4 separate regions of the Homo sapiens genome follow, and all the other regions are linked to region 4. Evidence: fine-mapped expression QTL. A gene starts in region 4. Each other region holds a variant in brackets. All regions are shown on one strand. Distances are between the middles of the regions.

Evidence for each region.
Region 1: its variant is fine-mapped to the expression of KAZN in whole blood (TOPMed, PIP above 0.99).
Region 2: its variant is fine-mapped to the expression of KAZN in whole blood (INTERVAL, PIP above 0.99).
Region 3: its variant is fine-mapped to the expression of KAZN in whole blood (INTERVAL, PIP above 0.99).

Annotation. Positions count from the first base shown.
Region 1 is chr1:14,865,088-14,870,548 of GRCh38, forward strand. All of the region lies in intron 1 of KAZN (kazrin, periplakin interacting protein), which reads left to right. Among named protein-coding and RNA genes, the nearest start is that of KAZN, 270 kb to the left of the region's middle. RefSeq lists an enhancer at 3,018-3,518. The variant C/T (reference allele first, on the strand shown) is at 3,069.
Region 2 is chr1:14,889,651-14,895,111 of GRCh38, forward strand. All of the region lies in intron 1 of KAZN (kazrin, periplakin interacting protein), which reads left to right. LOC107985469 (a long non-coding RNA gene) reads right to left here. Exons shown (of 3, transcript XR_001737616.2): 2 at 311-374. Among named protein-coding and RNA genes, the nearest start is that of TMEM51-AS1, 260 kb to the right of the region's middle. RefSeq lists an enhancer at 4,174-5,174. The variant A/G (reference allele first, on the strand shown) is at 2,306.
Region 3 is chr1:14,871,749-14,877,209 of GRCh38, forward strand. All of the region lies in intron 1 of KAZN (kazrin, periplakin interacting protein), which reads left to right. Among named protein-coding and RNA genes, the nearest start is that of KAZN, 280 kb to the left of the region's middle. The variant C/CTGGATGGATGGA (reference allele first, on the strand shown) is at 2,722.
Region 4 is chr1:14,595,546-14,601,006 of GRCh38, forward strand. KAZN (kazrin, periplakin interacting protein) reads left to right here and starts at 3,140. Exons shown (of 15, transcript NM_201628.3): 1 at 3,140-3,678. The coding sequence starts at 3,453. RefSeq lists a silencer at 3,807-3,966.

The DNA.
Region 1 (5,461 bases), 270 kb after region 4:
AAGCTAGCTACTCAACACTGGATGCAAAGATTCAGGCAGGGGTGGAATGGGGACCTTCTACCTCTGCCTCTTGCCCAAGGTCAGGGACACCGTTCTCACCACTAGACAAACTTCCCATCTGGAGGCACCAAGAGGAAGAGACTTTTCCAGAGAAATGTAGCTGCGGCTCCTCCCCAGTATGAAAATAGATCGCCCTGGGACTGGAGTAGTTAATGAAGATGATAATTAGAATTGCTTATTAGGACCTGTCTTCTGAAGTTCATTTGTGCTTTTAATAGAATCTACAACACATCTGCTTAGCAGAGATGACAGATCTTCCTGATTTGGTGTATTTTAAGACAAGATCTTTGCGCCCTGGCTTCTCCTGGTCTCCCTCCTCCCCCATGTCTGCCATCTGCTGCTGCGGTGACCTTCCCTCATGGCAGAAGCCTGGAGACTGCAACCAGAAAACACCCTTCTTCTTGCCAGGGGACCCCCTCCACCAAAAGCCAGAGAGACGTCTCATCTCTTTCTGAGGAATAGCAATCCCTTCTACGACCACCCTCCCCCTTGCTCTCCAGCCATCCTGCCTGTACTGGGTTGGATTATGTGTGCCCTCATCCCAAATTCATGTCTACCTGGAATGATAGAACATGACCTTATTTGAAAACAAGATCTCTGTGGTTATAACTAGTCAAGTTAAGATTTACTGGAATAGGGTGAGCCCTAATCCCAAGGTCTGATGTCCTGGTAAGAAGGCCACGTGGATACACAGGGAGGAGGCCGTGGGACCACAGAGGCAGAGATTGGAGTGAGGCAGCCACAAGCCAAGGAGTGCCAAGAAACCACCAGAAGCTGGGAGGAGGCAGGAAAGATTCTCTCCTGAAGCCTTCAGAGGGAGCACAGCCCTGCCGACACCTCGATCCCAGCCATCTAGCCCCTAGAACTGCAAGATGATACATTTCCGTTGTTCTGAGCCATCTGCTTTGTGGCACTTTGTTATAGCAGCCCTGGGAAAGTTTTTTTCAGCTTCTCAAACTTGCCGAGCTCTCTCCCAATTCCATGCCCTTTGCACCTGCTGTTCCCTCTGCCTGGAACTCTCTTTCAGCTTCCCCTCCCCACTCAGCTCTTCTCCTGTCCCATCCCCACATCACCTGTCCAACCCCTACTTTAGAGCGCTTTGCACATAGATGACTATGCAATGAATTACCTCACCGAAAGCAGGTGACCTGTACAGAAAGCAAGCATCCCGATCTCCCTGAGTTTTGGCGAGAGCCCCTTCCTCAGTCCCATAAGCTCCTGGTCAAGGTCTATGCCCATCTTGTCATCCTTCTGTCCCTGGAGCCTGGCATGCAGTTAACATACAAGAATTTGTGGAAGGGTCTGGCACAGTGGCTCACACCTGTAATCCCAGCACTTTGGGAGGCCAAGGCAGGAGGAGTGTTTGAATCCAGGAGTTCAAGACCAGCTGGGCAACATCTTTTGCCCCCGTCTCTGCCAAAAATAAAAAATGAACTGGGCATGGTGGCATGTACCTGTAATCCCAGCTGCTCAGAAAGCTGAGGTAGGAGGATCCCTTGAGCCCAGGAGGTTGAGGCTGCAGTGAGCTGTGATTGTGCCACTGCACTCCAGCCTGGGTGACAGACTGAGACTGTGTCTCTTAAAAAAAAAAAATGTTGAAGGATAATACCATTGATCCTACAATTGCTAGACCCAAATGAATCCAAAGGTCCTTCCAGCCCTTCCAAGACCTTGGGCCTCACTCCATGAGCATCCGGACACCTAATCTGAGGCCCCAGGCATGGAATCTGTGCTGGCCTGAGCTGTGGGGAGACCCTGGTCTATGGACACCTCTTGAGATCAGTGGAGATACACAATAATGGAGAATGCTGTTATTGTCATGGCATAAATTTGGATTGGAGAAGACAGAAAAGAAGCAGGATGCTAAGTGAGGCTGGCCACGCCCCTGCCTCCCTGATGGACTGCTGACCTTGCAATGCCCTTCTCTTGAATCCCAAGTTCGGGCTCGTTTTTTCCAGGCCTCCTCTGCTACAATGCTTGGCCAAGGCCCAGCCAGGGCCCTCCCTGTGCAGGGGAGCAGCCACGTTCAGGGCCCTGTGATCAATGGAGCGTGGAGGCCTCTCGGAGTCCTTTGCTCCCCTCTCCCTCCTCTTTTGCCTTGAAGGTCTGTTGTTTTGTGAGATCTGCGAGAGTGGGGAGAGTGGGGAGATTTATTTTGCACTGAGGCTGTGAGTGGGCTGAGAGAGAAGCAGAGGACAAAAACTGCACTAGACTTAGACCAGGCACCAAAATAGAAAGCCCAAGACCATTGTATTCCCCCGGGACCTGACTCTGGCCATGGTGCTGATGATAGAGTTACCGTTGGGTTCAGGGATGGTGCATCCTCCAGCTGGGCTCCAGGTAAGACAGGCTTTTTGACTTCTCTGTGCCTGTTTCCAGCTCTGTGAAGTAGGAAAACTACTAGCTTCCATCTCGCAAGGACGCCGAGAGGATGAAATGACAGAGCACGTAGTTGTCCGTAGACTGATGTCAGGTGCTGCTGTTTGTGTTATTAATGACAACAGCAGTCATCCTATTCAGGTGCTTTTGCTAGGACTGTGACTTCTGTCTCTGCTTTACTCGGTGTCTTTGAAGACACCCCCCCCCCCACCCTGGGCATGGAGGCATTGGGGCAAAGGGCAGCAGGCAGGTCAGCTGGCATGGCCCCTCGTCTGGGGCTTGTCCCTGGCTATGTCCTCAGCTTTCCTGGGCTGAGCCAGTGATGTATATAAGGCTGTGGACTGCACTTGGATAGGTGGAGAGGAGACAGACATGACCTGGCTACAGGGAGGACAGCAGTGGGCAGGCACAGCCTCACATAAGCACAGCATTGCATAGGCAGGCATCGCATATGCAGGCATTGGATACACAGGCATCACAAACGTGGGCATCACACAGGCATGGCATCGCATAGCATGGCATCACATACGCACAGCATTGCATACACAGGCATCACATACGCACGGTATCACATACACAGGCATTGCATACACGGGCATCACATAGCACGGCATCACATACGCAGCCAT[C/T]GCATAGGCGGGCATCGCATAGGCAGGCATCAAATAGCACGCATCACATACGCAGGCATCGCATACGCAGGCATTGCAAACACATGGCATCACATACGCACAGCCAGGGCTGCGTCTGAGGCCACTGGAGGGGAACTGTTCTTAGACCCAATGGCTGTCTTTACTACTAATTGCTATTGCATCTATTGGGCAATTAGAGGGTACCAGGCTGTGGGCTTTCTAACACTTTCCTGGGATGGGAGCCATTTTATAGATGGGGAAACTGAGGCTCAGAGTTGGAGCAACTCATCTAGGGCCACACGTTACAAGACCTGGGATTTGAAACCAAGATTAGTGACTCCAGAGGCTGAAATCTTAACCACTTCCCCGTGGGCCCTTCTTGAAGTGAATGTCTAACCATTACCACTTTTCCACTGGGTGAACTGGAGTCTTGTAGACCCAGAACATCTGGGCAGACTTTGAGTTTGGGGAGGGGAATCTAGTAGGCTCCTCTGCAGCTGTCTTCATCTCTGCATGTCCTTCCAGAAATGGGGCCAAGAGGAGCCAGGCATGGTGGCGTGTGCCTGTAGTCCCAGCTACTAGGGAGGCTGGGGTGGGGGGATCTCTTGAGCCCAGGAACTCAAGGCTGCAGTGAGCTATGATCATGCCACTGCACTCCAGCCTGCACAACAGAATGAGACCCCAACTCTAAAAAACTTAATAGCTAAGTAAAAATAATAATAAATAATCCGAAATGGGGCCAAGATAAGAGAACTGAATCGGGGTTGGCGGGGGGGTGCATCTGTTCTACTCGGTGATTTTTCCCTTGTTGATCTGTGTCCCCCACTCCAGCTTGGGGGCCCCGGTGGTATTGTGGGTACCCACAAAATGCTAGTCAGGATGCCAGATTCCCCTTCTCTAGTTCCTGCTAGCACCTTGGGATGTGTCCTAGTGAGAACCGCAGACTTGCCAAAGCCATGACAGCTGGATCCTATTCTAGCCGCAGGTTGGGATCGAAGTTTAGTATTCCAGCTTCCACCATCCCCTTCCTGCCTGTCTTGACCCTTCCAGTTTGCTCCTTTAAATCTCCACTTCCCTTTTGCACAGTCTCAAGCTCTTCCAGGTTCTGAGGATTTTTTCTCACTTCTCAGGGTGAGCTCGCGACCTTTCATTGCCTTCCCTGTGTGAGCACAATTCAGGGGTCAGACTCTGGACTCTTTATGGAGCCTCAACGCAGGGGCTGTGACTGTATATTCTGCACAGCGAGGCTCTAATTACAGGCTGCATGCTGGAGACTAGTCATTTTGTGAGTCATTAGGATGTGTGGCTGGGGCTTTATAATATCTTTTGATGAGTTCTGTAATTTTTATATCTTCACCTATGCTAGCATTTTCAGTGAAGCAGAACAGGACAGTAGGGCTGGCAGATGTCACAGCCCCTGGGCTCTTTCTGGATCGGAATTGAAAGGGTCTTCTCCTCTGCACTCTGAGGAGAGAAATATTGATTCTGATTGGGTTCGAGGGGTTGAAAGCTGGCATGTGCCTCGTCTCTTGCTAATCAATATTCCAAAGCAGTGGTTGTGGGTAATGTTTGAGTACTTGCTTCTGTTCTCCTTCGTGTTGGCAAATTACAAGCTTTCAGGTGAGACTCCCTTCATTTTGCAGTGGCTGCGAGGAGCAGGTTTAATTAGCGCACAGACCTGCTGGAAAAATCCAGTGTTATTAAAAGCCTTGTTCCATGTGGTGGCTGCTGGGTTGTACCGGTCTCCTGCCCTCAGCCCCTTCCTTCCTGAAGCCACCCAACACCCACCCCGGCATTACTTTGCCATTAATCCCAAGGTATCCGGGGAAAAATGACAGAGAGGTAAGAAAAATCACATGGAAGGTAGAATGTCCAGATTTTTCCCCAATGAGATGAAAAACTCAGGGTCTCATCTCTGTGGAAAATCCCAGTATCTGTCCAGGAGCACTGGGCCTGGCCTTGACCTTGGCTTTGACCTTCAGACGACTGCTGGGGAGATTCCTTGAACATGGAGTCTAGGGCCTGGATACTGGGAAAAATCAGACCCTTCTACTCAAAACCAAAAGACCACAGGCTTTGGAGTTAAGACAGGGTGAAGGGTGAGTCCCAGCTCTGCTCCTCACTTGCTGTGTGACTTTGAACAAATGGCTTAACTTCTCTGGCCCTGTTTCCTCAACTGTTTTTTGTTTTTTGTGTGTTTGTATTGAGACAGAGTTTTGCTCTGTCGCCCAGGCTGGAGTGCAATGGCACAATCTTGGCTCATTGCAACCTCCACCTCCTGGGTACGAGTGATTCTCCCACCTCAGCCTCCAAGTAGCTGGGATTACAGGCATGCACTACCACACTGGCTAATTTTTGTATTTTTAGTAGAGACGCGGTTTCTCCATGTTGGC
Region 2 (5,461 bases), 290 kb after region 4:
TTTCTCTTGGCAAACTACAGCCCACAGGCCAAATCCAGCCCACCAACCAAGAATGTTTGTACACTTTTAAATGGTTGAAAAAAATCAGAAGAATGTTTCACGATGTGAAATTTATACAAAATTCAAACTGCAGTGTCCATAAATAAAATGTTACTGGATCACAGCCTTGCCCATGTATTTATGAGCAGTTGGGACAGAGACCATTGAAAATATTTACTTCCTGGCCCTTTGCAGAAAAAGCCTGTCTTACATGACAAAATATGGCAACTAGCAGACTGTGTCGGGTAGTATCATCAGTGAAAAGAAGTACCTCGTACGCTCGAGCCAAACATCAGCCTCTTGAAGAGTTACAATGGGCTTTTTATGTCGTCAACCTGCAGAACACAGGAAGAGTTAGGGAGAAGCCTAGACCCAGGTCAGAATGCAGTTGGAGATGATTCGGGAAGCTTACCACAGGGACCCTGAGGGGGCTTCCCAGAACTTGCTGAACAGTCGCCTTTCCCTTCCCTGCTCTGCGAGTTTGGGTTTTGGGTAAGCAAGTCAAGCCTGGTCAGCTGGAATGCTCTGGCTGGTCAAGGCAATTGAAATTTCTCTTTAATGGAAGATTGAACAAAAAGCTCTTTCTGGATTGCCCCTGGGGAGAGGTTTCTCAGCTGTGTGCAAAGCCCATTTTCCTGATGGGAAATCTCTCCACTGCCCGAGAATGGCACGCAGACCCAGAATCTCCCGGGCACCAGTCCCCACCAGTGGGACATCGTCCCGCTGCAAAAAGTATAGGACAAAGAAACTGAATCTGTCAAACCTGTGACATCCCCTAAAAGCTGAACATTTTTAAAATTCCTGATAGCAAATTTAAATCTTTTTTTTTTCCTTTCTGCCCGCCTTTTAAAAAGATAGAGAAGGTTATTTTTAAAGGCAGGCCATAGATCAGGATTCTGAATGACGGGCGTGAATCAGAGTCCTCTTGTGGGCTTTCTCAGTATACAGACTTCCGGGCCCCACGGCGGATCCACTGATGAATCTCAGAATGGGACCCAAAGATCTGTATTTTTTTTTAATCTAGAGCTGGGGTCTTGCCGTGTTGCCCAGGCAGGTCTCAAACTCCTACGCTCAAGTAATCCTCCCACCTTAGCCTCCCAAAGTGCTGGGATTACAGGTATGAGCCACTGTGCCCAGCCAGGAATCTGGACTTTTTTTTTTTTTTTTTTTTTTTGAAGCAGTCTCGCTCTGTCGCCCAGGCTGGAGTGCAGTAGCCGGATCTCAGCTCACTGCAAGCTCTGCCTCCCGGGTTCACGCCATTCTCCTGCCTCAGCCTCCAGAGTAGCTGGGACTACAGGCACCCGTCACCACGCCCGGCTAACTTTTTTGTATTTTTAGTAGAGATGGAGTTTCACCGTGTTAGCCAGGATGGTCTCGATCTCCTGACCTCGTGATCCACCCGCCTCGGCCTCCCAAAGTGCTGGGATTACAGGTGTGAGCCACCGCGCCTGGCAGGAATCTGTATTTCTAAAAATTTATTGTTTCCATAGGTTTTTGGGGAACGGGCGGTGTCTGGTTACATGAGTACGTTCTTTAGTGGTGATTTGTGAGATTTTGGTGCACCCATCACCATAGCAGTATACGCTGAACCCAATTTGTAGTCTTTTATCCCTCACCCCCTTCCCACCCTTTACCCTGAGTCCCCAGAGTCCATTGTATCATTCTTATGCCTTTGCGTCCTCATAGCTTAGCTCCCACTTATGAGTGAGAACATACAATGTTTGGGTTTCCATTCCTGAGTTACTTCACTTAGAATAATAGTCTCCAATCCCATCCAGGTTGCTGCGAATGCCATTAACTTTCCTTTTTATGGCTGAGTAGTAAGGAATCTGTATTTTAACAAGCTTCCCAGCACTTCCCATGTGTGTGCTGGGCTAAAGCAGTTAAAGACCACTGCTTTAACACTGTATTTATTTACATGGGAAAATGTCCATGGAATACCGTTGAATTGTTTTTTCTAAAAGCAAGTTAGCCTGTGTCATGCTGATTTCTGGAAAATTCTATGTCATTATGTTTCTTTAGGAGAGAAGAAAAGCCAAAAAAGTATTAACGGGGGTAGTGGGATTTTACAGGTGATTTATACTTTTTTTTTCTTTGTACTTTCTCCAACTTGTTTGAATTTTATGCAATGAATAGCTATTTCTTCTAAAATGAAAAAGAAATCTCTGAAGTTATTTCCATGGTTGGGGGTGGGATGGGGCAGTAAGACGTGTCCATGAGCCTCCGTTAGTCGGCTCTGATTATGTGAGGCTTCTTGGTGTCAGGG[A/G]GTCTTACATCTGGCCCTGCCTGTTGCTATGACCCAGAAGCTACTGGAAGGTGTCAGGAAAGTTCAACATGCCCCCGTCCCTACCTCCTGCCTCTGGCCTCTGGTGTGGTGCAGACCCCTGAAGTAAATGCCTCCTCAAGGCAGCAGGCAGAGCCCAGATGGGATGGTGACCCTGCCGTCATCTGTGCTCCCATTCCTGGCCCAAATGGAGTCTCAAGGTCTCTAGGGAGCCCAGCCCAGCACCTGCCACAAACACTAAATTCTCTCAGAACTCCAGGAAGAAAACACTCCTGGCAGAAGAGAGTTCAGTCCCTGCCCCGGGGCTCGCCTCCAGCCATCTCTGATGACCCAGGTCCCAAGATGCCCTCCTGTGCCTTCATTATGGGAAGAGAGGCATCTGTCTTTCAGAGGCATCTCTCTCTCTTTTTCCCTCTCTCTCTCCTTTTTCCCCCTCCCCCCTGCTGTCTCTCTTTCTCTCTGTATCCTACAATCCCTGGATCATCTGAAGGCCTGTAATCTCAGGCTTGTTTCCCCCCAGACACCACCATGGAGCTTCTCCCTCCCCTGACAGCCCATGGGAGCCCACCCCACAGGTTTTTCTACAAGGTCTGCAAAGGACAGAGTGGAAGGGAAAGTGCTAGAAGGTTGCAGAGACACCCCAGAAGGTGTCTCCAGAGCAAGCTTTCGAATGACCTCTGTCTGCATCACTGCCCACCACCCCTGCCCATGGCTCAGGGTTCATAGGGGTGTGTGTTCATGTCCTCAGACTTGGGCAGGTGAGCCCAGGACACTTGTGCCACGGGGCTGTGGGGGCCTCCTGCAGGCTCCGGTGGCCTGGGCCCAGGCAAACCAGCCCACTCATCTTGTATCTCCAATACCTACACACACACACACAAAAGCTTCCAGAAGAAAGGAAAAAAGGAATGGACAGAGGAAGGACCAGTCTCCTAAGATTATTCCTCATTCATGCAGTCCTCCACAAATATTTACAAGCACCTACTACGTAGCAGGCACAATTCTAGGTGCTAGGATAGAGTGAACAGAATTAGACTGATTAGACTGGTCCCTACTGTCATAAGGCTGATGATCTACAGGAGGAAGTCAAATAATCATTTTTAAAAGGAAAATAGAGGCCAGTGTGGTGGCTCATGCCTGTAATCCCAGCACTTTGGGAGGCCGAGGCAGGTGGATCATGAGGTCAGGAGTTCGAGACCAACCAGACCAACATGGTGAAACCCTGTCTCTACTAAAAATGCGAAATGTAGCTGGGCGTGGTGGCTCGTGCCTGTAATCCCAGCCACTTGGGAGGCTGAGGCAGAAGAATCTCTGGAGCCCAGGAGGCAGAGGTTTCAGTGAGCAGAGATCGCACCATTGCACTCCAGCCTGGGCAACAGAGCGAGACTTTGTTTCAAAAAAAAAGAAAAAGAAAATAGAAATGGCCCCTGGGAGAGGAGCTCCACAGGAGAGGCAGATGGCCCTTTGACCTGCTCAGAGAAGTAGGTCACGGGGGCTTCTCCAGGGAGCAAAGCCCTTGCTGATGCTGAAAGATGAGTGAGAGGAAGAGCGCTCGCTGAGACCCCCATCTTCCCTTCCTCCACACCCTAACCTTGACTGATGGCCCCCTCGCCTTTACTGCTACTGCTCTCCCTACAGGCTGGGGAAGGAGAGAATTGGAAAATCTCCTTCTGACCATATTGTGTCTGGAGTTTTGTATCACCCTTGGTCTCAGACCCTGAGGCCAGAAAGCCACAAAGGGTCAGAGGTCAGAGTGGGCAGAATCAATCTGTGCCCGCTTCAGCCTATGTTTAAGGTACAAGGATCATTTGAAAAGTCCCTTTCACAAGGGAGGCACCCTCTGAACATAAAAGTCTTGCCCCAGCTCAGGAGCAGACAGACTTGCTTACTGGGACGTCTCAAAACTTGTGCAAATGACAAGTTCATTTTTAGCCGAAAAGAAGACACATCTGAAATATTGATGTGGCAGCCGGAGCCCGGCTCCAGACCCAGCTACAAAGGGAGGTGCTAGTTGATGAAGAGTATAATTAATCAGCACTTAGGGACCTCTGGCTGCTGATTTCAAGCTAACTGTCCCCCAAATCCACTTCTCTGACCCACCAGAGCCCAGGGTGCTGCCACTCAAAGCATCACAGTACGTGAATCTAATTGCAAACCTCCTGCCTGCCATCACGCCCATCTCCCCTGCCCAGCTCTGCCACCATCTCCCCTCCCTAGCTCACCCCCATCTCCCCCGCTCCAGCCTACAGTTTCTGCCGCAGCCTCGCCTGCCTGACCCGACAGATGGCTCCTCCTGCATCCTCCATCCCTGCTTTGCCATTTGCTGTTCCTTCTCCTCCTTCAGCACCTGGCTCACTAACTCCCGCTTTATAACTCACTCCCAATCAGCTGTGCAATCCCAGAAAAATTTCTGAATCACTTTGTGCCTCAGTTTCCCCATTTACAGAAATGGGGAAATGGTAACAGTCCTCACTGTGTTAGGGTCCCTGGGAAGACTGAATGTGTTAGGGACGTCAAGGGTGTAGAGTGCCTCATGGCACGTGACACTTGCCCTGCAGGCGTTAACTGTCGATGTGGCACATCTTTCCAGCTCATCTCAAGCATCACCTCCTCCTGGAGCCTTCCCGGCCTCTCAGTCTGAGTTAGGGTCACTTAATTGCTGATTCGCAGTCCTTGCTAGACTCTAAGCTTCTTGAACCCGAGAATGGCATCATTCATCTCTGCATTCCCAGTGCCTGGAATTGGGTACACAGTAGGTGCTGAGTAAGTGAATGGATGAATGAATGAATGAATGAATCTCCTTGCAGATTTCTCCAGGGTCTGAGATTCTGTGCTATCACACCAAGGACGGGGAAATCAATTCAAAATCTTCTGCATCTTTAATTTGGGCTGAAGAGTGCAGCTCTCTCCTCCCTGCTCCAGGGAGGTAGGTTTGCCGGTCCAGCCAGCCTCATGACTCAGCTGCCCCAGAGGCTTCTCTCTGCCCCAGGGCATACTTAGCCATTTGGCACAGAAGGCACCAAGTCTAGGGCCATGAATATTATGATGCAGCCTGCTCTGCCCAGCAGCACTCAAGGCTGAGTTTTGGAAAGCGAGCCTTGTGGTGACTGAGTAGGAAGTGCCTATAACTGGCCCCTCCCT
Region 3 (5,461 bases), 280 kb after region 4:
CTGAAGGCATAGTATCCTGATTGACCAGATCTGAGTCACAGGCTCACATGCTGACCCTTGGAATCAGAGTGGGGTCAGCCCCACGTGAGTCTCAGTGTCATGGACTCAGAGTAGGGGAGAGAAAGGTGACCCGGGAGAATGGGGGTGTTTAGAGGGGGTGGGCCAGGAGGAAATCAGGAGCTCAGTCTGGAGCATGCTAGGCTGGAGATGTCTGTTAATCATCTGGGAGCTACCAGAAGAAGGGGGCATGAATATGCGCAGACAGCAAGGCAAGAGGCTATTGCTGGCAGATAAACATCTAAATTCCTGCACTCCTGTATCAGAAGCTGAATTAGGGTGCAAGCGTGTGGGCACCAGTCCCTTAAATTACCCTTCTTTGGAAGGAATAATGGACTTGGAGTCAGAAGACTAGATTTCAAGACTAGCCTCTGCTTCATACTGACTGGGGGACTTCTCTGGGTTTGTTTTCTTGTCTGCAAAATGGGATATAATAAACTACTACTTTAGGGTGGTTATGGAGCAGTGCTGTCTGATAGAACTTCCTAGAACTTTCTATTTAATATGGTAGCCACTGGCCACATGTGGATATTAAGCAATTAACATATAGCTAGTGTGACTAAGGAACTGAATTTTTTATTTTATTTAATTTCAATGAATTTAAATTCAAACAGCCACATATGGCTAACAGCAACCATATTGTACAGTGCAGTTTTAGATTATTCAATTGGATCATTACAGTTTGCTTTGTAAACTGTGAAGTGCTATAAGGGAATATTCATTGCATCCCTTAATTGAAAGCTCCAATGATGAAGCCAGGTACTGTGTGAATAAGTCTTGCTCATGCTCATAATTATTGTAACCACTGATCTAAGTGGGGCCTGAAATCCTTAAAATGGTCTTATTTCTGGACATCTCCCTTCACATTTGAAGGATTAATATAATGGATCTCTCATGAACCTATACAGAATCCCAGTAAGAAATTATTGCATGGATGGATGGTTCGATGGATGGATGGACAAGTGGACAGATGAATGGATAGGTGGATGGATGGATGGACGTACAGATGGATGGGTGGAAGGACAAATGGATGGATGTACAGACGGATACATAGATGAATAGATGGGTGGATGGATGGGTGAATGGATATATGGATAAATGGATGGTTGGGTGGATGGATGGATGGATGGATAGATGGATGGATGGATGGATGGATGGATGGAAAGATGAGTAGAAGAACATATAGAAGGATACATGGATGGATGGATGGATGGATGGGTGGGTGGATAGATAGATGAATCGGTGGGTGGATGGATGGATGGGTGGATGGATGGATGGATGGAAGGATGGATGGATGGACAGATAGATGAATGGATGGGTGGATGGATGGATGGATGGAAGGATGGATGGATGGACAGATAGATGAATGGATGGGTGGATGGATTCATCCATTCATTCCTTCTGTCACCTGCTATGCACTAGGCATTATTCAAGTAGTTAGGGATAGAATAATAACACAGACAAAGCTCCTGCTTTCAGAAAGACTGTATTCTAAAGGGGAGAGTCAGATGTTCAAGAAGAAAACAAATAGCATAAAGAATTTCTAGTAGCAGTAAGCACTATGAAGGAAAATAAAGTGGGGAAGAGGGATGCAGAATAATGGGGCTGCTGTTTCACATAGGGTGGTCTCTTTGGTAAAGCAGCATTTGAGAAAGCCTTGAGGGAAGGGAGGAAGTGAGCTATGCAGAGATCTGAGGGAAAAGCAGAGAGAACAGAAGAAGGCTAGCATGGCTAAACCAGAGTGTGGGAGGAGAGGAAATGTAAAAGGAGAGGAGGTCAGAGGGAGCCAGGGGCCTTTCAGGCTTTTGGAAGACTTTGCTTTCCTCTCAGTGAAATGAGAAGCCAGTGGTGGGCTTTGAGAAGAGGAGGGATTGGATCTGACATATATTTATGTTGTGTTGAAAATAGACTCTAGGGAGGAAAGGCAGGTGCCGGAGACAAATAAGGAAGCTACTGCAATCATCTAGGCATGAGTTTGTGGTGGCTGGGACCAGGGAGAGAGCAGTGCAAAGTGGGGCAAAGTGGCGAGATTCAGTATCTAGTTCAAAGGTAGAGCCAGCAGAACTGACGTGGTGGATGTGGTGGGTAGGAGAAAAAGGAGAAGTCCAGAATGATTCCAGAGATGCACCCTTGAGTAACTGGAAGGAAAGCACTTGTCATTTCTTGAAATAGAGAAGACAGGGGCAGGAGCGAGTTTAGAGGGGGTGGGCCAGGAGGAAATCAGGAGCTCAGTTTGGAGTATGCTAGGTTAGAGATGTCTATTAATCATCTGAGAGTTGACTGTCCAAATTTCAAGGGAGAGGACAGGGCTGGTCATATCCATTTGGGAATCATCAGCATATACAGATGATATTTAAAGCCACGATACCAGACAAGTGAGTACAGATAGAGAATCCAAGGATTGAGCTCTGGAGTCCTCCAACATTTGGAGGTCGGAAGGGGGAAGAGGATCCAACAAAGGCTACTGAAAAGGAACAGCTGGTGAGGTAGGAAGAAACCAGTAGAGAAGTGACATGTGTCCGGAAGAGAGTGTTCAACTGTTAGATGCTGCTGACAGATTAAGTAAGAGGGGCTGGAAAGGTGACCACTGGATTTAATAATGTCATTGGTGACCTTGAGTTGTTTCAGAGGAATGGTGGCATGAATCGCTAGCTAGCTGGCTGA[C/CTGGATGGATGGA]TGGATGGATGGATGGATGGATGGATGGATGGATGGATGGATGGATGGATGGACAGATGGATGGAAGGCTAACTTAACTACTGCAGCTAACTTAACTACTGCAGGTAACTGCACCATCTTGTCACCTGTGACAGCAATTAAGCAACTGTTGCCTGACACTCCGTGTGCCAGAACCAAAAGCTGTCAAAACCAATCTCCTTCTCCATTCACCCAACTTTTTGGATCCAGCCCAGAAATCCTGGTGTGACCTGTGTTTGCTATAAGATGAGAATCTTGACATCTTCTGGTTTGATTATCCTTCTCTGGATTACCCATAATGCTCTTGGTCGAATGTTTCCCCTTTTAAGGTTTGAGAAGGGAAAGGAAAGGAAGAAAATGAGAGGAAAAAAAACTAACTCTGGGATCCTAGACTTACTTGGTTTTGTATTTCCATTTGCCAAACTGATGCTTTGCCAAATCTCCCTTCCTTTCTGGAAGAGCAGATTTGCGCAGCCACCTACCTCTGCAAGTGGGGGTCCCTGGAGATTCCTCCATGTTAAAGCCAAATGAGGAAAGGTCTCAGATATATCTGTAAATTTGTGGCCAGGTGCGGTGGCTCACACCTGTAATCCCAGCACTTTGGGAGGCTGAGGCAAGCAGATCACCTGAGATTGGGAGTTCAAGACCAGCCTGACCAACATGGAGAAACCCCGTCTCTACTAAAAATACAAAATTATCCCGGCATGATGGTGCATGCCTGTAATCCCGGCTACTCAGGAGGCTGAGGCAGGAGAATCACTTGAACCCGGGAGGCAGAGGTTGCAGTGGGCCGAGATCATGCCATTGCACTCCATCCTGGGCAACAAGAGTGAAACTCTGTCTCAAAAAAAAAAAAAAAAAAAAAAAATTGTAAGACATTTTATGTAAATGTTATTTATCTTTTTATGGGTTTATTTGGTTGTTGTTATCATTTATTGGGTGAGCATGGAAGCTGAACTCTTGTCTTCCCTGCCTTGCATTGTCCTTAATTTATTAAAAAAAAAAAAAAAGAAAAAAGAAAAAAAAACTATTTTCAATGAAGCCATTTCTTCCTTCTCCTAATAGTGAAAATCACTGGATTCTTAGGAGGCATGAGGCACAGACCAGGCTTCCTACGCAGGATGTGCTGGGGTCTGCTCCAGGCTCCTGAGAGCCAATAGTTACATTTTCAGGAATGTTATAAGCCTCATACTGGTGGCTTAAAATTGATGATGAGAGTACGTACACCATGGAAACTGGCAATGACTACAAATCAGGGCTCCTTCGCCCAACCCTCCACAGTTGATTGTTAAACACTTGCCAGTACACCACTGCCTGTTGCCTTCACTATCAAGAAAGAGGTTTTCTGAGATCAATCTGAAGTGTGACCTCGGGAATTTCCTGCTTTCCTGGAAGGGGGTAGATTTCAGCCCAGGCATGACTGCCACATCAACAGAGATGCTCGGGAAGATGTGTTGCCCTGCAAACTTTCACAGTTGACACCCCCTGCTTCAAGCTCTGTGTGATGACAGTGAAGTGAGAGTGAGCCGCTCCTCTGAATGGAGAGATTAAAAGCAGTTGTTTGACTGAGGCAAGGAGGAAGAAGAAAGCCCAGACAAGCCAAGTGGGACTGTGATCTTAACAGATGTTAGGATCTTACCTCATTAGGGCACCTCAGAGGCTTGCCGCGGAGGTGAGAAACAATAGATGAGGTGATGGCTTTATGGAATTGTCAGTGTTATCAGTTCCCTGTCCTCAATCTGATCTGCACAATCACAGCCTCTGTTGTCACCTGTCCAATTTCCAATCTTGTGGTAGCTGCGTTTATTACATGCGCAAATGCAGCCAGCAGCCAGAATGACATTAGCGATAGTAGCTGCTGTGGGCTCATTATTATGCAAGCCAGGAAAGGAACTCTAGGCAGGTGATTAAACATGCCTTTGGCAACAGAGCAAAGAACAGATGCTTGGGAGGACACACCTTGAAATTGCAGGTAGGAACCTGGGTTTAGGACCATCACTCCTGTGCAGGTCTTTGCAGGGGAAGCAGACACAGCGTTGTGTAGTAGTTAAGTGGAGGGAGTGGGGTCTGGAGCTGGACTGCCTGGATTCAAGTCTCACTCTGCCCCTTACCAGCTCTGTGACCTTGAGTATGCTTCCCACCTTCTCTGTTTACATTAGTCTGCCCATCTCTAAAATAGGATAATGATGCTAATGATAGTACCAAAAATTGGTATGCTTTTGAGGATCCATGAGTAATCTACGTAAAACACTTAAAGTGATGCCTGTCACACAGAGCTAATAAATGTTAGCTGTTATTATTCTCCCTCCAGACCTTTTTGTAGATAGGCATGTCTAGATTTGGGGAAGTCTTGTCTTACCACTTAGAATACTGCAAAGTCATCTACTTTGACATGAACTAAAGAAAGTAAGAAAGCCTTTGGGCAAGTTGAAACCAACTTGTATTAGTCAGACATTTTTGAGTTTCAGGTGACAGAAATTCAACCCAAACTGTCTTAAGCCAAATATATACATACATGTAGAGATGCAAAAGCTACTGGTTCTGGTGATTCAAAATACCAGGGTTGATCTTCCAGTCATGGCTGGTTCCAGGGACTTGAAAATGCCAGTGTGGATCCTTCAGGCATGACTGGCTCCAGGAGCTCAAGGGGTGTTCCCCGCACTCTCTCGGACTCTCTTGGACTCTCTTCTCACCACCAATCTCGTGGCTCTGTCTCCCGTTA
Region 4 (5,461 bases):
GAGGCCTGCACCTGTAATCGCAACTACTCAGGAGGCTGAGGCAGACAATCCCTTGAACCCAGGAGGCGGAGGTTGCAGTGAGCTGAGATGGCGCCACTGCACTCCAGCCTGGGCGACAGAGCAAGACTGCGTCTCAAAAAAAAAAAAAAAAAAGAAAAAGAAAAAGAAAGAAAAAAGAAAGGTAGACCTTTTTGGTTTAAATCAAGTATACCCGCAGAGGCTAATTGATTGCAGACTTTCTATCTAAGATCTAGTCCTTTGGTGTGTGGGTGAACATAAGGACACACAACTGGAAAAAGCCCCTTTTTTTCATGTTAGGAAAAAAAACTCTCAAAAAATAAAATTCTTAAAATCCTAGGAGGCACCCCAGGAGTTTCTAAAGCAGCTTCTTGAAACCTCAAAAATAGAGGGATGAGAAGGGGCTCAAGGAATGAGTCTTTTCTTTTCTCCTTATTAGATTTTTTTGTTTTGATTTGATTTGAAGATTCCGGTGTGTGGGAATAATCTCACTGAAGAGCAAAATGAGTAACACTGGGTCACTTTGTTTACTACACAAACACACTCACACGCATTCATTTACAGAACACTTACTACGGGCTAGGGCGGCAAGGACGCAAAGATGAATGACATAAAAAGCCGGATAACCCTCCTTCCCCCACCCACAAGTTCCCAGTGAAGTGGGAGAGAGACATATAAACAGATAAATTACTGTTTCTTCTGCTGAGTGCTATACCAGAGGTGTGAGTGCACGCACACGTGTGCGCACACACACACACACACACACACACACACGGCCCTCTAAATAGAGCTACTCTTAACTGTTTGCTCAGAAGCCCTAGTTCCAAAACATTCCCATCCTCTCTATTTGTGTATTTGCATATATGACTTTTTGATTGAGGTAAAATTTACATAACATGAAATTAAGCCCTTTAAAGTGAACAATTCAATGGCACTTAGTACATTCACCGTGTTGTGCCACCACCACCTCTGTCTAGTTCTAAAACATTTTCATCAGTCAGCACAAAGTAACACCCGGCACCTATTAAGCAGTTACTTCTCATTCTTCCCTCCCCACAGCCCCTGACAAACACCAATCTGCTTCCTGTTTCATGGATTTATTTATTCTGGATATTTCATATAAATTGAATCGTATAATATGTGACCTTCTATGTCGGGCTTCTTTCAACTAACATAATGTTTTGGAGCTTCATCCACGTAGTAGTAGCATGTATCAGTACTCTTCACGGCTGAGTAATATTCCATTGCATACTGCAATTTGTTCATCCAATCATCTGTTGATGGACATTTGGGTTATTTCTGCCTTCTGGCTACTAATGAACAGTGCTGCTATGAACATTCATGTACAAATTTTTGTTTGGATATTTGTTTTGGACATATACCTAGGAGTGGATTTGCTGGGTCGTATGGTAATCCTATGTTTAACTGTTCAAGGAACTGCTAATATGTTTTCCACAATGGCTGCACCACGGCATCCCCCTTTTCAAGACCCACACAGCTCTGTAGTTTTGATGCTCTCCCCATAACGTAACTGAAAGACTGCAAAGAACTGAATCCTGGTTTGCAGATACACTAAGCAGTTCTAAGTGCCTTGGTTGGTCCAGTTGGTAAGAACTTGTGTTAATGAGGTTAAGGTCAGGGTTCGATCCCCGAACTGACCCATTAGCTGAGCAGAGCGGACAGAGTGAAGAATTGTGTCTTCCTGCCACATGCTCCACCATCAAATCCTGCCCTCTTGCAAAAGCTTGTTAGTGGTCACAGGGGAATGGAGCAAGACTGTTTTTATGGTTCCACAGAAAAGGGGGGAGAAATCTATCATCCAAGGCCTCCTGAAGGCGCAGCAGGAGGAACTTGCAATCAGATGATTACTTTCTTCCAGTCCCGCTGTCACCTGGTTTCTGCGGGCCCCTTAAGTAAATTGCTTAACCCTATGCAGAGCCTCAGTTTCCTTATCCCTAAAATGGGAATAATAATCCTCACTCACAAGAGATAAGAATGCATATAAAAGCACTCTACACGCAGTTTTTGCTTGGTTCTTATGGGCTTCCTGTAAGAACCTGAAGGGTGGGCAGCCTCATTTTTCCTCGCAGCACCCCACTGGCTTCTGCAATCTGCTCTTTGCTGCTCTCCGGAGGTTGACTGAGCTGGAATGATGGCGCCCTGTTGACCAGAGGGTTGCTGGCTGTTTTAAATTGTCCTATTTGCATGGAATGAAGTTTGCTATGGTAACAAGGTCTGGTGGCTGGAATCCAGGGCCCCAGTGAAAAATGCAAAGCCTGTGGTCTGGGAGAGAAAGAGGAGCTGGAGAGGGCATATCAACGTCAGGTTACCTCAGTTCTTCTGTGAAGAGGGGATGGGTAAACTGAGGCAGCAGGGCTCAACTCTTCTGCTCCCAGTAGAAGAAAGGGAAGAAGCCCCATCGACGCCTTCCTTCTTATCTCTCAACCTCATCTCTGTCCCCGCCAATATTCAGCCCGGCTAAGAAGCTTAGGAGCTGGCTAAGGCTGCTCCTCCACCTGGATGCACACACAGGGCTAGGGCTGTGGAGAGGCGGGAGCACCAGCGGCCCACGCCGAGGAAGATAGGCGCTCCCTCCTGGGGTGGGCAGCGCAGGTCTGGCCTGCGGGTGGGGGGTGGAGAGTGAGAGGCACGCGGGGCACCAGCTCAGCTCCCCTCTGGGGATTTCGTACTCGCAGTTTAAGGAACCGGTGGAGCACGAACTCCACTCCTGAGCTGGCGCAAGCGTCTCCCTTCCATGGAGATCCACCCCGGCTCCCCTCTGAGGCCCCCTTTCCAAGCACCCTCTCTTCCGAGCACCCAGCACCTCCCCAACCTTAGCACGGCTCGGGGCACCAGTTCTCCAGGGCGGGGGCTGCCCCACCGCTCAAGGGAGGGGACAGAGGGCCGGCCTCGGTCCAGGCGACCCCTGCCCCTCGCCAGGGGCGCCACCTTGGCCCCCTCCCGACTGCCGTCCGCCGCCTCCGCCCCCCCGGGGGGTGTGTCTCCGAAGTACGGGGGCGCGGGAGGCCAAGGGTGCCCCCAGCCTCCGACCGAGACCCCCTCCCGAGCCGGCGGCGAATGGTAGGCTCCATTTAAAGAGTGCCTGGTGGCGCGCGGTGTCCTTCTTGGAGCAGCTCTCGGCGCCCGCCCGCCGGGGTCTCGGCGATCGCTGCTCCTCCTCCTCCTTCTCCTCCTCTTTTTTCTCCTCCGCCTCCTCCCCCCGCCGCCTCGCCACCGCCGCGGCTAGGGCTGGAGGCGCCGCTGTCATTCCTGTGCCGGAGGAACCGGCGCTGCCGGTGCCTGGGGGTCGGGGCGCGGGCGAAGCCGGGCCGCGGAGGACACAACAGGTAGAGCCGGGGGTGCCCGGCCGCGCGCCCCCCGCGCATCATGCAGCTCTTTGTCACCTCTCTCGCCCCCAGGCCAAAATCCTGAGCATGATGGAAGACAATAAGCAGCTCGCGCTCCGCATCGATGGGGCGGTCCAGTCGGCCAGCCAGGAGGTGACCAACCTGCGAGCCGAACTCACGGCCACCAACCGGAGACTGGCGGAACTGAGCGGCGGCGGCGGCCCCGGCCCGGGCCCGGGAGCCGCGGCCAGCGCCTCGGCGGCGGGGGACTCGGCGGCGACGAACATGGAGAACCCCCAGCTTGGAGCGCAAGGTAGGATCGCCCCGGCGCCCAGGGCGGAGGAAGGCGAGCAGAGCACGCCCGGCCTCGGAGGTGGCCGGGGACCCGGGGTCCCCCACACCCGGGGCGAAATCGCTTTGCATTCTGGCTTGTAACCCTTTCCGCCCGGCGGTGGCCACCGCTGCTCTCCGGCTGGGAGTTGCAGGCTGCTGTCATTCACGAAAACCCGAGCGCAGTGTGCACGGGGTCACACGGTCACACCGGCCCCGGCCAGCCTGAGCGAGGCGCAGCCGGCGGGTCCCTTCCGGCATCAGAAAGTGCCCTTTCCGTGGCACCAGCCCCCTAGCTCCGTGCAAACTTTTCATGCCGGGGCCTTTTCCCCACCCCCCGCAGGGGTGAATGGCACAGTTCCCCCCACTTCCTTAGGCTCCTTCCCAGAGAGAGCTCCGGGCTCTGCCGCCGTGGTTGGGATAGAGGATTGCACTGCTGTGCACTTTTCTCCGCGGATGCCAAATCCCTTGGCTCAGTTGCATCTGGACTTTATTTTCTTCTCATTTGAGGTCTCTCAGGCATTGGAATCTATAGATGCAACAGTAGATGCTCAGCTCAGCAGGGAGTTTAAATTTCCGCAAATATAAACACCGAGAGCACTTTCCAGGGGGATACTGTAGACCTCAAAGGTTGAGCGGTAGAGAAATGAAGGCTTAGGGTGGTGGGCTGCAGGGAGCCCGTTTGAAGGGACTCTGCGGTTTAGAGAAGAGGAAGAAAAAGACAGTTGGTTTGTGTTCACATTGACAGAGATTAAGCTCTGAAACCCCCTGCAAGACATAAAGGCGGATGGGGCATTCCCTAAAATGTACTGTTTGGTTTCTGTGACTTAGAAAGTAAAAGGGTAAGCAGGCTTTGGGGGATTTTTTTTTTCTTTTTGCCTAATTGCCCTTTAAGAAACAGTATCACTGGTTATTAATATCATTTGAATTGCAAATTAAACTGCTGAAATCCAGAACAGGACAGAAACAAATCTCCAGTCCATGAGGTCCACTTGTCTAAATATGTCACTTGAAGTGCAAGGTACCAATTGCTCAGTGGCTCAAAATGATTTTCTGGTTCTGTTGTCATTTCAAGAGCTTCTCTTGAGGGTTGAGAGAGTCTGTTTTCCTAAGAATCTGGTTCTCTCCATCAGTCTCTGTTTCCACCTTATCTTCCTGGGAAGGTGTGCTTTCTTTGAGGTGAGATGTGAAGCCTGCCCACGTGCAGTTTTATGTCGAATTCCAAGTCAGATCTTAACTTGGTACTCCCGGAGCCTGTTGGAAGTCTTAGGAATTGGGGGGAGTACTTTGGTAAGGAAGTAGCCATGACGTAATGGTGAGAAGGTGTTGTGGTCCTAGTGCTTGCTGCAAGCTTGACATGTGGTTATTCTTGTCATCCTTGCAATGTCATTGTGTGCGAAAGAACATTCTCCACTGGAACCTGTGCAAAAAAAAAAAAAAAAAAAAAAGACAGACTGCAAGGTAATGCTTCACTTTTTATAGGCAGAGGCTCTGCTAACATTAAAGAAATAGCTAAGAACTGGCATTTTGCTAAGAATCAAAAGCTGTATAGTAAAGGACACTGAACAATGCTCGTTTATTTCCCACTGTCTGCCCCTTTCTCCGCGAAGGAAAAGTTAAGTGGCTTTTTATCTGAGTCCTGGGTCTGGTTGTAGACTGGGCAGGCTAAGGCAGTCAACGCAGTAATGATGTCCACATGCTCAACTTGAAAACTGACATACTCGCGGATGGTTAAATTGTTGTAGTGGAGCAACAGGGGGCTGATT